Regions from separate parts of the Homo sapiens genome. Here region 1 is linked to region 2. A link means that fine-mapping ties the variant in region 2 to the expression of a gene that starts in the linked region. Tissue or cell type: whole blood. Region 2 holds a variant in brackets; the other region holds the start of a gene. All regions are shown on one strand. Distances are between the middles of the regions.

Evidence for each region. PIP is the estimated chance that this variant, and not a neighbour inherited with it, causes the effect.
Region 1: PLXNA4 starts here. The variant in region 2 is fine-mapped to the expression of PLXNA4 in whole blood (TOPMed, PIP above 0.99). The same link has a PIP of 0.9 or more in CD4 T cells.

Annotation. Positions count from the first base shown.
Region 1 is chr7:132,573,677-132,578,700 of GRCh38, reverse strand. PLXNA4 (plexin A4) reads left to right here and starts at 2,231. Exons shown (of 32, transcript NM_020911.2): 1 at 2,231-2,279. RefSeq lists enhancers at 1,792-2,769, 2,770-3,747.
Region 2 is chr7:132,459,058-132,464,081 of GRCh38, reverse strand. The region is part of intron 3 of PLXNA4 (plexin A4); the gene reads left to right. Among named protein-coding and RNA genes, the nearest start is that of PLXNA4-AS1, 110 kb to the right of the region's middle. The variant A/C (reference allele first, on the strand shown) is at 2,761.

The DNA of each region.
Region 1 (5,024 bases), 110 kb before region 2:
ATTCTGGCTTGGTTCATCTTCTCATTGGTGAGAGCAAAGTTTCAGCAGGGTCCTCTCTGGGTGGGCCAAGCCTGACCTATATGTGCCGCTCACCTTGGGGCTTGTTTAAGCTGTCATCTCACAGCTCCTTTCAAAGGCTCCCCAATTCACACAACTTCGATTTCTGTGAGAATATAACCCCTATAGGGAGGTATAGGCATTTAAGCCATTATCAGTCATGTCCACCTAATAAGGAGGCTCTGAGATGTTTCGATGGGAGGGACAGTAATGGGCGGGAGTTTCTGGGTGTGAGGACAGTGAAAACTAAAGAAGGGACAGGAGAGAGGAGGCCAAGAGCCATGGGCTCCTTTAGAGGGTCGTCCTTGCTGGTTGCCTATCCCAGGGAATGCTTACTGGACTCTGCTGAAGGTGCCACTTCCCTCAGACTATGGTGGGAGCGGGTATGAGGATGAGGGTGGCATGCACAGAGTTGAGTTAACAGGTGTGGGAATCCCTTCGGTTTCTCTTGGTGGGTGGGCCCATTCCTAGGGGGATCTAGGCAGAGGTTTGGGAGGTAGTGCCACCCACTCCCCATCTTCACTGCCTAAACCAGAGCTACATGGTGATTTCTTTCTTTGGGCTTCAGAAACCACCCTGATGTTGGCATGGTCTGTTCTGGATGTAGTCTAGGATCTAGGGTTTCAGAGAAGAGAGGAGCCAGGAGAGCCGCTCAGTATAAACATGAATGGAAAAGTCAGGTTACCAAGCCAGCTCTGGGGCACTGGCCACTCATGTTCTCTCGTGCGGGCCTTGTGCCCTCAGTGTCCTCGGCCTCCTTGGGTGCCATGTGGGGGTGACTTGGTGGGGTGTTGGGAGGGGTTCTGACTAGCAATGGGTGTATGCCTCAGAGTCAGTGTGCGCTTGTGTCAGCTCTGAGCACCTGAGGGTCCCTCCGACGGCCAGCGCCCAGAGCTGCAAATTCCGAGGCGGCTGAGCGCCTCCCTCTGAGCGCGCGCCGTGCGCTCCGGTCACCCATGTATGCCCCTCTCTCCGCCCCACATCGCCACCGCCAGGGTAGCTCCGTGCGGGCCGAGGGGACCCAGGGGGGTGTCGGCAAACGTTGGTGCGGAGGAGAGCCGGCAAGCCGGGCGGCGGCGGGTGGGAGCATGTAGGGAGGCGCCCCCTGCCCCCTCTGCCGGCCGCTCTCCCTCGCTCTAGATGTCAGCCGCGAGCTCCGAGCCAGCGAGAGCGAGCCAGAGAGGGAGCGGCGGCGGGCGGCGGGCGGCAGGGAGGAGAGGAGGCGAGGCGAGGGAGGGAGGAAGGGAAGCAGGGAGGGCGGGAGGGAGGAGAGGAGGACCCAGAGAGCGCCAGGCAGCTGGAGTTTTTGCAGCGCTTGGCCGGGCTTCAATGCACAGCAGCAGCGAGCCGCGGCGGCAGCAGGCAGCCCGGGAGCTCCGGCGGCGGCCGAGCCAGCGGCGGCCCCGCTCCCTGCCCCCTGCAAACTTTGCGAGCAGCCCGCCCGGGGGGCCGGGGGCGCGCCCGGGAGGCCCGGCTCGGCCCGCGGCCGAGCTCTCCGCCGCCGCAGCGCCAGCCGCCGCAGCCACCACCGCCGCAGCCCCGCGCCTCCCCGGGGAGCAGCCGGCGGCTCCCGCGGCCCCCCAGCCCCGGCCCCAGGGCACTGCCCGGCGAGTGTCTCGGCAAGGGTGGGGGCTGCCGCGGCGCGGCCGGCCGCGGGCTGCCGGGGGGCGGCCGCCGCTACCCAGAGAGGCGCGCAGAGGCGCCGAGAGCGCTCCCCGGCGGGTCCCCCGCGCACTCGCCGCGCCCGGGCAGCGGCCCGACCGGGCGAGCATGGGCGGCGCGGAGTGACGCCGCTGTGCCCGCTTGGCATCAAGGACATTCAGCCCGCGGGGGTGGGGACGAAGGGGGGCAGCCCGGCGTCGCCACCGCAGCCCCCGAGAGCCGCCGCCGCTGCTCGGGCTCCGGGGCTGGGTGGAGGAAAGGGGTGTTCGGAATCGATCCCCATTTTCCGACCTTTTTGTTGGACATTACGCCCACCTTGGACGCCGCAAGAGAAGCTGTCAAGCCCCGCAGGCTCTGATTCGGCGCCCTCCGCGTTCCTCGGCTGCTCCCGGCTTCCCTGTGCCTCGGTGGAGTATTTGCGTTCGGGGCTGGGGCTGGAGGAGGCAGCCACACGCGCGCACACGCACACGTTCAGAGGAGGGCGAGAGGCAGCGGCATAGGCTCCATCTGCAGTGTCAATGCGGCGCTCCCGCTGAAGGAGGGAAACGCGGCGCGTCCAGGTAAGGAGCCGGCCCGCCGGGGAGTGGGGCCGGGCGGGCGGCGAGGGCAGCAAGGTCGGACAGACCTGGGCCGACCCGGGAGTCCTCAGTGTCCCGGAGCCAGCCCGCGGCACACGCACACGCACACACGCAGGCACACACACAGATCCACACCGGCACACACGGCGCTCGCGCACCTGCCCACGTCCCACCTGGACGCCCGCGGAGGTGCAGCGGCCGGAGCAGGGATTTCCCGGGTGTGTTCTCCTCTCACGCTCCTGGACTCAGACTTCTCTTTCCCGGGACTTTCGGGGTGGGATTCTGTGTATTCCCGGCTCTGCCTCCCACCCGGGGAGGTTGAGGGAGCAATTTTTCAGCTCCCAGCCCCTTTCGTCCCTAGCTGGGCTTTAAAATGGGAGAAGTCCTGAGAGGTTTCCGGAGACCTACCCAGTGTCATCGCGGCCCCGTGGCCTTTGGACACCCTGGGATTTCAACGGGAGACAGACCCACAGATATTCGGACGCATATTTGGAGAGAGTGGTGGCCCAGCGCCCGGGGAGGAGGCCAGATAGGCGGTTGGGGCTGCAGTTCTGTAGGGCGGCGCATATGAAACAGACACTGCGTTTCCCCAGTAAGAGGCAGCACAAACGCCTTTCTGAAGCGTGGCACTGCTTCCCCGGGAATGCGCCGAGATTTCAGGCAGAAAGCGGCTTAAAGCATCGCCGCGTATGTTGCTTGTCTAGGGAAGGTACGGGGGTCAGATCCTCCTTAAAAGGTAAGACCTTATTCACAGCCTCAGTGCCTGCTTAGCAGCAAGCAGACAGGACTTGGAGACACAGGACTTGGGTCCCCTCTCACCTCCCTACCCTCCCTGGGCACATGGGGCTGCCTTCCCCGGTGCCTCCGGCTGGCGAACACCTGTCACATGCCTTTCGTGGTGTGTGTCTGAGAAAGAGAACTAGAAGGGGGAAGCACGAGGGATATAGTCCTCCAAAAGAGGAGGCTCCCCTCCCTCACGACCGTGGCGGCACTGCCCACCGGAGAAGGCAAGGCATTCGTGGGTCTGCCAGCGTCCCCCAGAGCCCAAGCCTGCTCCGATTGTAGAATCACTCCCCAGACGCCCGTGCTTTAAGGTCCTATTTCCCGAAAGCATTTTCATTCTTGTTCTCTCTGGCTGGAATTTCACAGGCTGCTCATTTTAACTTTTTCTGGAGGAGGTAGGAAGTGGCTGGGGTTCTAAGAGGCTTTTCCATAGTTCCCTTCTTGGGGTCTAAGAGCAACTAATTTAGGGTCTCAGTTGTCATAGGGAGAAGAACATGAGATCCAAATCAAATTCGGAATTGAATATATATGTACAAGCTCCTGTGTTTCTGGTGCTGTCACTTTGAGGTAGCTTTCTAGGCAACATGATCATATCATTTTCCCACAAAACTGAATAAGCTTGTACCCTCTGTCCAAGATCATGTGTTCAGAGTATCCCACAGACCCACCAGTGGAAAAAATATGTTAGGAGCCTTACAGAACATGATGGAAGAGGAGCAAACATTCTTTTGAACAAGGAGGCCTCAGTGCTAGGCTCAGAATTTGGGTTGTTTTTGTAAATCCTGAAGATAGGGGCTGAATGAAAGGGCTTTTTCAGCACCCTGACTCCGCTATTTCCAAACTTTTTTCAGCTCCTGCAAAGGTCTCTGGCTAGGCTGGGGAGAAGCGCAGACACCCCGGGAGGGAGATTGTATTCCCGCTGTGTGCTGTGTGAGCTGCCCTTTGATTGATTGAAAAGCATAGATGGAATAAAGCAAATCTCTCACAATGGAGAGACCCCAGTAGGGGGAAGAAACCTTATTTGCTTTTTAAGAATGGTGGGCGTGTGCACACACACACCCAATATATATACACACATGCGTTCTCAGAGTCTGGCTAAATGTGGTCAGCTCCCCGCCCCCGCCATGTGTGACAATGGGGTCCACCTCTGTCTTCCGGGCTGTGGAAGAAATGGAACATTTCTCCCCACATGCCCCTTGAGGGCGTGGACAGGCAGATCCCACCTACGCGTACAGCAGCACATGGTTTGCAAAAGAAATAATGAGCTCCAGCAACAGTGGGTGCCTCCCAGGTAAACAGTCCCTCATGGGACCTGGAAGAGGCAAAGGGATAGGGTACAGGATCTTCCTGAAATGTCTGTGTCTTCCCTGTAGACCTCCACTCCTTTCTCTGCTTTCCTCCCTACCCTCTTTCCTTTCTCATGTATTCGCAGCCTCAGGATCCATCATTTTAATGCAAAGCTAGTATCATTATGCTGGTTATAAGCTAAACATCTGGGTTCAGAAAATCTCTGCACTTTCTGCACTTAGCATTAGGTACCAATTTGGTTTCTAGGACAAGGCAGGCATTAATTAACATCTCTGTAAAGCGGAGTATACATTACGTTTTCCTGGCTCTCTTGCCCAGCCCTGGAGCATGCCACGCTGTCATTCACCCTCTCTGCCACTCTTCTGTGCCCTTCCTTTTAAGTTCTCTGAGGTCTTTCTCACTGGGAAGGGAGTCACACTAGAAAAACCCCAGCCATGAATGCTTCTTTTCAGCAGACCCTCGCTGCCTGGTAGACGGTGCTTAAGGCAGCTCTCCTGTGAGCACTAGGCATGGGTCACCTACAAGCTGCTCCTTCTTACCCAATCACGCCTCCCCGGGCTCTCATCTGTCCTCCCAGGACTTCCTCCTGGATGCCCACTGGGACACTGCAGACATTTCTGGAGGACTCCAAGGCAG
Region 2 (5,024 bases):
GTCCTAGTAACATTGCAATTCAGAGGTAAGCTCTCCACTCCCCTCCCCTGCCTTTTAGGCAAACATAGGAATTTTATTCATTTTGCTGACAGCCAGCCCTGGTTTCCTAGGCTGGTGTGGGGAGAAGTACTTGGGACCCTGAGATGTATTGGACAGGCTCCTGGGCCTCTGCTCTGTGGCTAGTTTATGAAGGAAGGAAGTTGGGGTGGGTGGAATAGCGATGAATTTAGTTCTGTTTTATCCACTGATGCTGGACTGGAAGGAATAAGATGTCTGCTCAGGAAGCCCTTGTGAGGGGTGGCTTGCAGCATCTTTGTGAAAGAATCAGGGGCATGTGGATTCATAGTCCAGCTGAAAGTAAGAGACAGTGGCCCTCATGGTGTGTCCCCGTAAGCCAGAGGGAAGAATGAGCAGATTAAAAAATAATAGCAGTGAAGTCCACACAAGTTCTGCCTAACTTCCAGAAGGAAGGGGACACATTATTATTAGGGATTCAACAAACGGGCTGGTTTCTAACCCTGGCAGCTTGCCTTCCCATCTATGTAACCTTAAGCAAGTCTCTTATCCTCTCTGGCATCAATTTCCTCATCTGTCAAATGGGCTAAAAATACTTACATCTCTGGGTTGTTGTGAGAATAAAGTACATTGCACAAAGCACACAGTAAGGGCTCTGGAAATTAAAGCTTAATAGTGATTTTTTTTCCTCATGTGCTCTAAGAATACTGAGGGCTGAGTGTGCACTGGTAGATGGAAAATCCAGTTTCCAACCCAGCAGCATCCACTGACTGATCAAACCTAACCTGTGCTGGATAATACCTTCCAAATCCTCTCTGGCCCTTCCTCCTCCCCTGGGAAGAACAATCAGCTTGGTTTCATGGTACCCTACAATTTTTATTTTTTATAATGTTGATTGTTTTTAAGAATTATTACAGGCTGGGCGCGATGGCTCACGCCTGTAATCCTAGCACTTTGAGAGGCTGAAGGGGGGTGGATCACTTGAGGTCAGAAGTTAGAGACCAACCTGGCCAACATGGTGAAACCCCGTTTCTACTAAAAATATAGAAGTTAGCTGGGCACGGTGTTGTGTGCCTGTAATCTCAGCTACTCGGGAGGCTGAGGCAGGAGAATCACTTGAACCTGACAGGCAGAGGTTGCAGTGAGCCAAGATTGCACCATTGTACTCCAGCCTGGGTGGAAAGAGCAAAACTCGGTCCCCCTCACAAAAAAAAAAAAAAAAAAAAAAAATTATAGAAATGTGTGTTATTTGTGGAAAATATAAAACAAGAATAAACAAGAAAAAAAATAACCTGAAATTCTATCATCTTCAAAAAATTATTAATGCTGGGCGTGGTGGCTCATGCCTGTGAATACCAAAGACTTGGGAGGTTGAGGTGGGAGGATCACCTGAGGCCAGGAATTAGAGGCCAGCCTGGGCAACATAGTGAGACCCTGTCTGTACAAAATAATAATAATTATTTTTTTTTAAATAAAAGAAGATACTTGAGTATATCCCTATGCCTTTTTCTCTATGAACCTTAAATACAGACAAAGTTGAGAGTATATATATGTACATATTATGTTTTCATCTCTACTTTTTATTGTGAACATTCCCCTGTGTGATTAAGTACCCTTCAAACATGGTTTTTAGTGGCAGCCTAATATTTCATAGCACAATCCTTGTTTTTCTGTTTTTTGTCTTTAAGCTTCCTGGTTTTCTTTTTGATGCATTTACTTCCTATTTCCTTTTTATCACTTGTTAATTATGCTATGTGGGTTGGACTTTCTCTGCTTTCCTCCCTTTTGGTGATTTGGAAAGTATTCATCCTATTTTAACCTAATAGTGGTTACCCTTAAGTTTTTGAAAGCACATTTAAACCCACATTCCCTAAAGCATCGAAGTTAAGAATTAAACAGTATGATTTTAGTCCTTCTCCTCCCCCTACTTCCAATTTTTATTAATATGATCTAGGTTTTAAGACCTGTATTATTTTTACATTATGATAATTTCAACATGGATTCATCCCTTTCAAACACTGTTTTTGACGTTTCTACTATGTTATAATTGAAATTATACTAAGTATTTGGACAACTTTAATAGCTTTTCATTGCTCATAGATCTGCAACATTGTAAATTTTCCACCTGTGGTTTCTTAATTTTGATTTGTCCCCTAGTAGATCGGCATTTGCCATTAAGACTTTGTTTTTCCCCCATGAAGGGAATAATATTTAAGCCCTTGGATACCTGAGACTGTTATTATGTCAACCTTAAATGTAAATGGAGACTTGACTGAGTATTTTTCTTTCCCTCAAAGTTGTTGAAATGACTCCGCTGTCTTAGAGCAATGAATACAGGAGGGGAGCCTGAGGCCCGTTGGATTTTGATTCCTTTGTAGGTAATCTCTTCATTTACTTTGTCTGAAGGTTTATAGAATTTTCTCCACACATCAGAAACATTTATTAGGATATGGATGTGTGTTGACTTGATTTCTTTTCCCTTGGATTTAAATATGTTCTTTTAATCTATAGCCTCCAGTTTTCAATGCAGGAAAGGCTTTTATTATCACTATTATTATTATCATTCTCATCAAGATGTCTGCTCTGTGATGTTTTCTCTTTGGAGGGCTCCTTGTATGTACATACTGGGGTGTCTGGTTTTGTGGTCCAGATCTTATTTTGTTTTCCTCACTGTCATCTTATTTCTGAGAAAGCTTTTCAAGTGCGTCTGTCACTTTCTTTTTTGCATTATACTTCCTGCTTCTT[A/C]TAGTGAGGTTTTAACTTCAGCCATTCATGCAACCTTACCTGAGGGCAGCTCCTTCCCTCTGGATCAGAGGAAGAGGCCAGATTCAGTCCCACTCCCTCATTTACATATTGTTTCTATTTAGGGAAGCCTTGTTGTACAGAGACCATGTGGCCTCAAAGCCAAGCATATTTCTTCCCTAGCCTTTTAATGGAAAAGTTTGCTGACCCCTGCTTTTGAGATGCTGTTTACTTTGATTTTTTTCAGAAAAAAGTCCTCTTGAATCTTACTGAAAAACGACATTTCCCAGACATTTTCTTTCTTTTTTCCTTTTGGTAAATCTATCTCATAGGAAAATATTTCTTGTGATTATCCTCATCTTTTTTATTTTTTACTTTTTGGGGCTGCAATATCTTTCTGCTTGCTTGGTTGCTTGCTTCTGTTTGTTCAGCCTTACAAAGAGAGGCTGTGTGCAGAGGTACCATGAGTCTAAGAGAGAATAGTGTGAACACCATTCTGAAACGTTTAGGATCTGCTCCCATCCCCCCTCTGCTTTTGTTTTACTGAAAAACCAAAATCATCCTTGTGGTGGGTGATGTGTGGGATTAGCAGAGGGTAGGATTCATTCTTAGTAAAGGAAAGACAGGGAGAAACTGAGGCTTAGAGAGGCTGTGACCACATATACTCAATTTTGAATTTAAATATTGCCTGCTAGGTTTGACTTTTCCAGTCCCACACTTCTCAGCTGGTGGCCTGATCTCCAGTTGTCCTGACTTGATTTGGTTTCCAGCTGGCAAAACATCACCCAAGGTTCTTTGCCACCTGAACCTCTGGGAAGCCTATGAAGCTGTCACTTGAGAAGTGGACCCCACAGAGCCACAGGAGAGAAGGGTGGGCACAGAGCTAATTTTTTCCATGCAGCTATTTTTGAAAATATTTAGAGAAATTACAATTTGAGGTTTTTTTTTTTTTCTTTTTTTGAGACAGTGTCTCAGTCTGTCACCCAGGCTGGAGTGCAGTGGCAGTGGCATCATCATGGCTCACTGCAGCCTCGACTTCCCGGGCTCAAGGGATCCTCCCACCTCAGCCTCCCAAAGTAGCTGGGACTCCAGGTGTGTACCACTGTGCCTGCCTAAGTTTTTAAAAAACTTTTGGCAGAGGCAGGGTCTCATTATATTGCCTAGGCTGGTCTCAAACTCCTGGGCTCAAGCGATCCCCTCAACTCGGCCTCCCAAAGTGCTGGGATTACCGGAGTGAGCCACAGTACTCAGCCAAATGGAATTTAAACAGTTGTATCTGAATTGTACACAGCCATAAGTATTCTTGCTATCGGTTGCCATCGTGACTGCATTGGGTACTGGTATTATATGCTGATGTGTAGGTTAATTATAGGAGGGGCATGGGGAAGAGAAGGGGCGGGGTGGGGGCACTCTTGTACACAATGAATTTAAAAAATCAGATATTTTCACAATTTAGTCAACTCCAATTATCTACACTTCTGGAAGGGAGGTGTGATTTAGATCATCGAAACCGGAAGGTAATTTAAACTTTATTTTCACTTTGTTTTGGGATATTGTATATTAGGATCGAGGGAGCCTCCCCACTTCAGATCAGGCTCGCTGCCCCCAGCATCCCCACCACCAACAGATTTCTCTTCTGGTCTGTGCCTGCTTGGGCTGGTGTTGAAACAAGCCCAGATTTGCTAAAATGCTGCCCATGGGCCTGAATATCTAGGGGAGCAGGAATATGAATTGAAAATGCCCGAGGGAAATAAACCACACACAAACCCAAGACCTGGACCCCTTCCGGCATCTCTAACCTCCGCAAGTGCTGGCCCTGGAAGAATCCACAAAATCAAATTGACTGTAGCCTGCTCATTGCTCTTTGGTCTTTCCCTGGGGTTCCTCTCCTACTGCCAATCCACTTGCATCCAGCTCCTCTTGAATGACAGATTATGATCAAGAAGGCTATATTTCAAATAAGAAAAGGGGTGGGAGATCGTTTCCCCGAATGTAAGATCTTGTTGGTGTTAAAATTAGCAGTGATAACTATTACTGTTCCTCCAGTTCTTACTTTCTGCTTCTTCAGGCAATTTTTAAATTAGGGGTTCTGGTTCAGAAAACTGTCTGCTCAGGGGAATTGATCCTCAGAGCTGCCGTCTTAGATCAGACAGCAGCCCAAAGGGTCCAAATGCTCCACGGCTGGGTGGCAGGAGGAAGAGCGCGGGCTCTGGTTCGGTCGTGCTCTGTAAAGGCACACGGTTTACCTAGGTCTACGTAGATGTGTG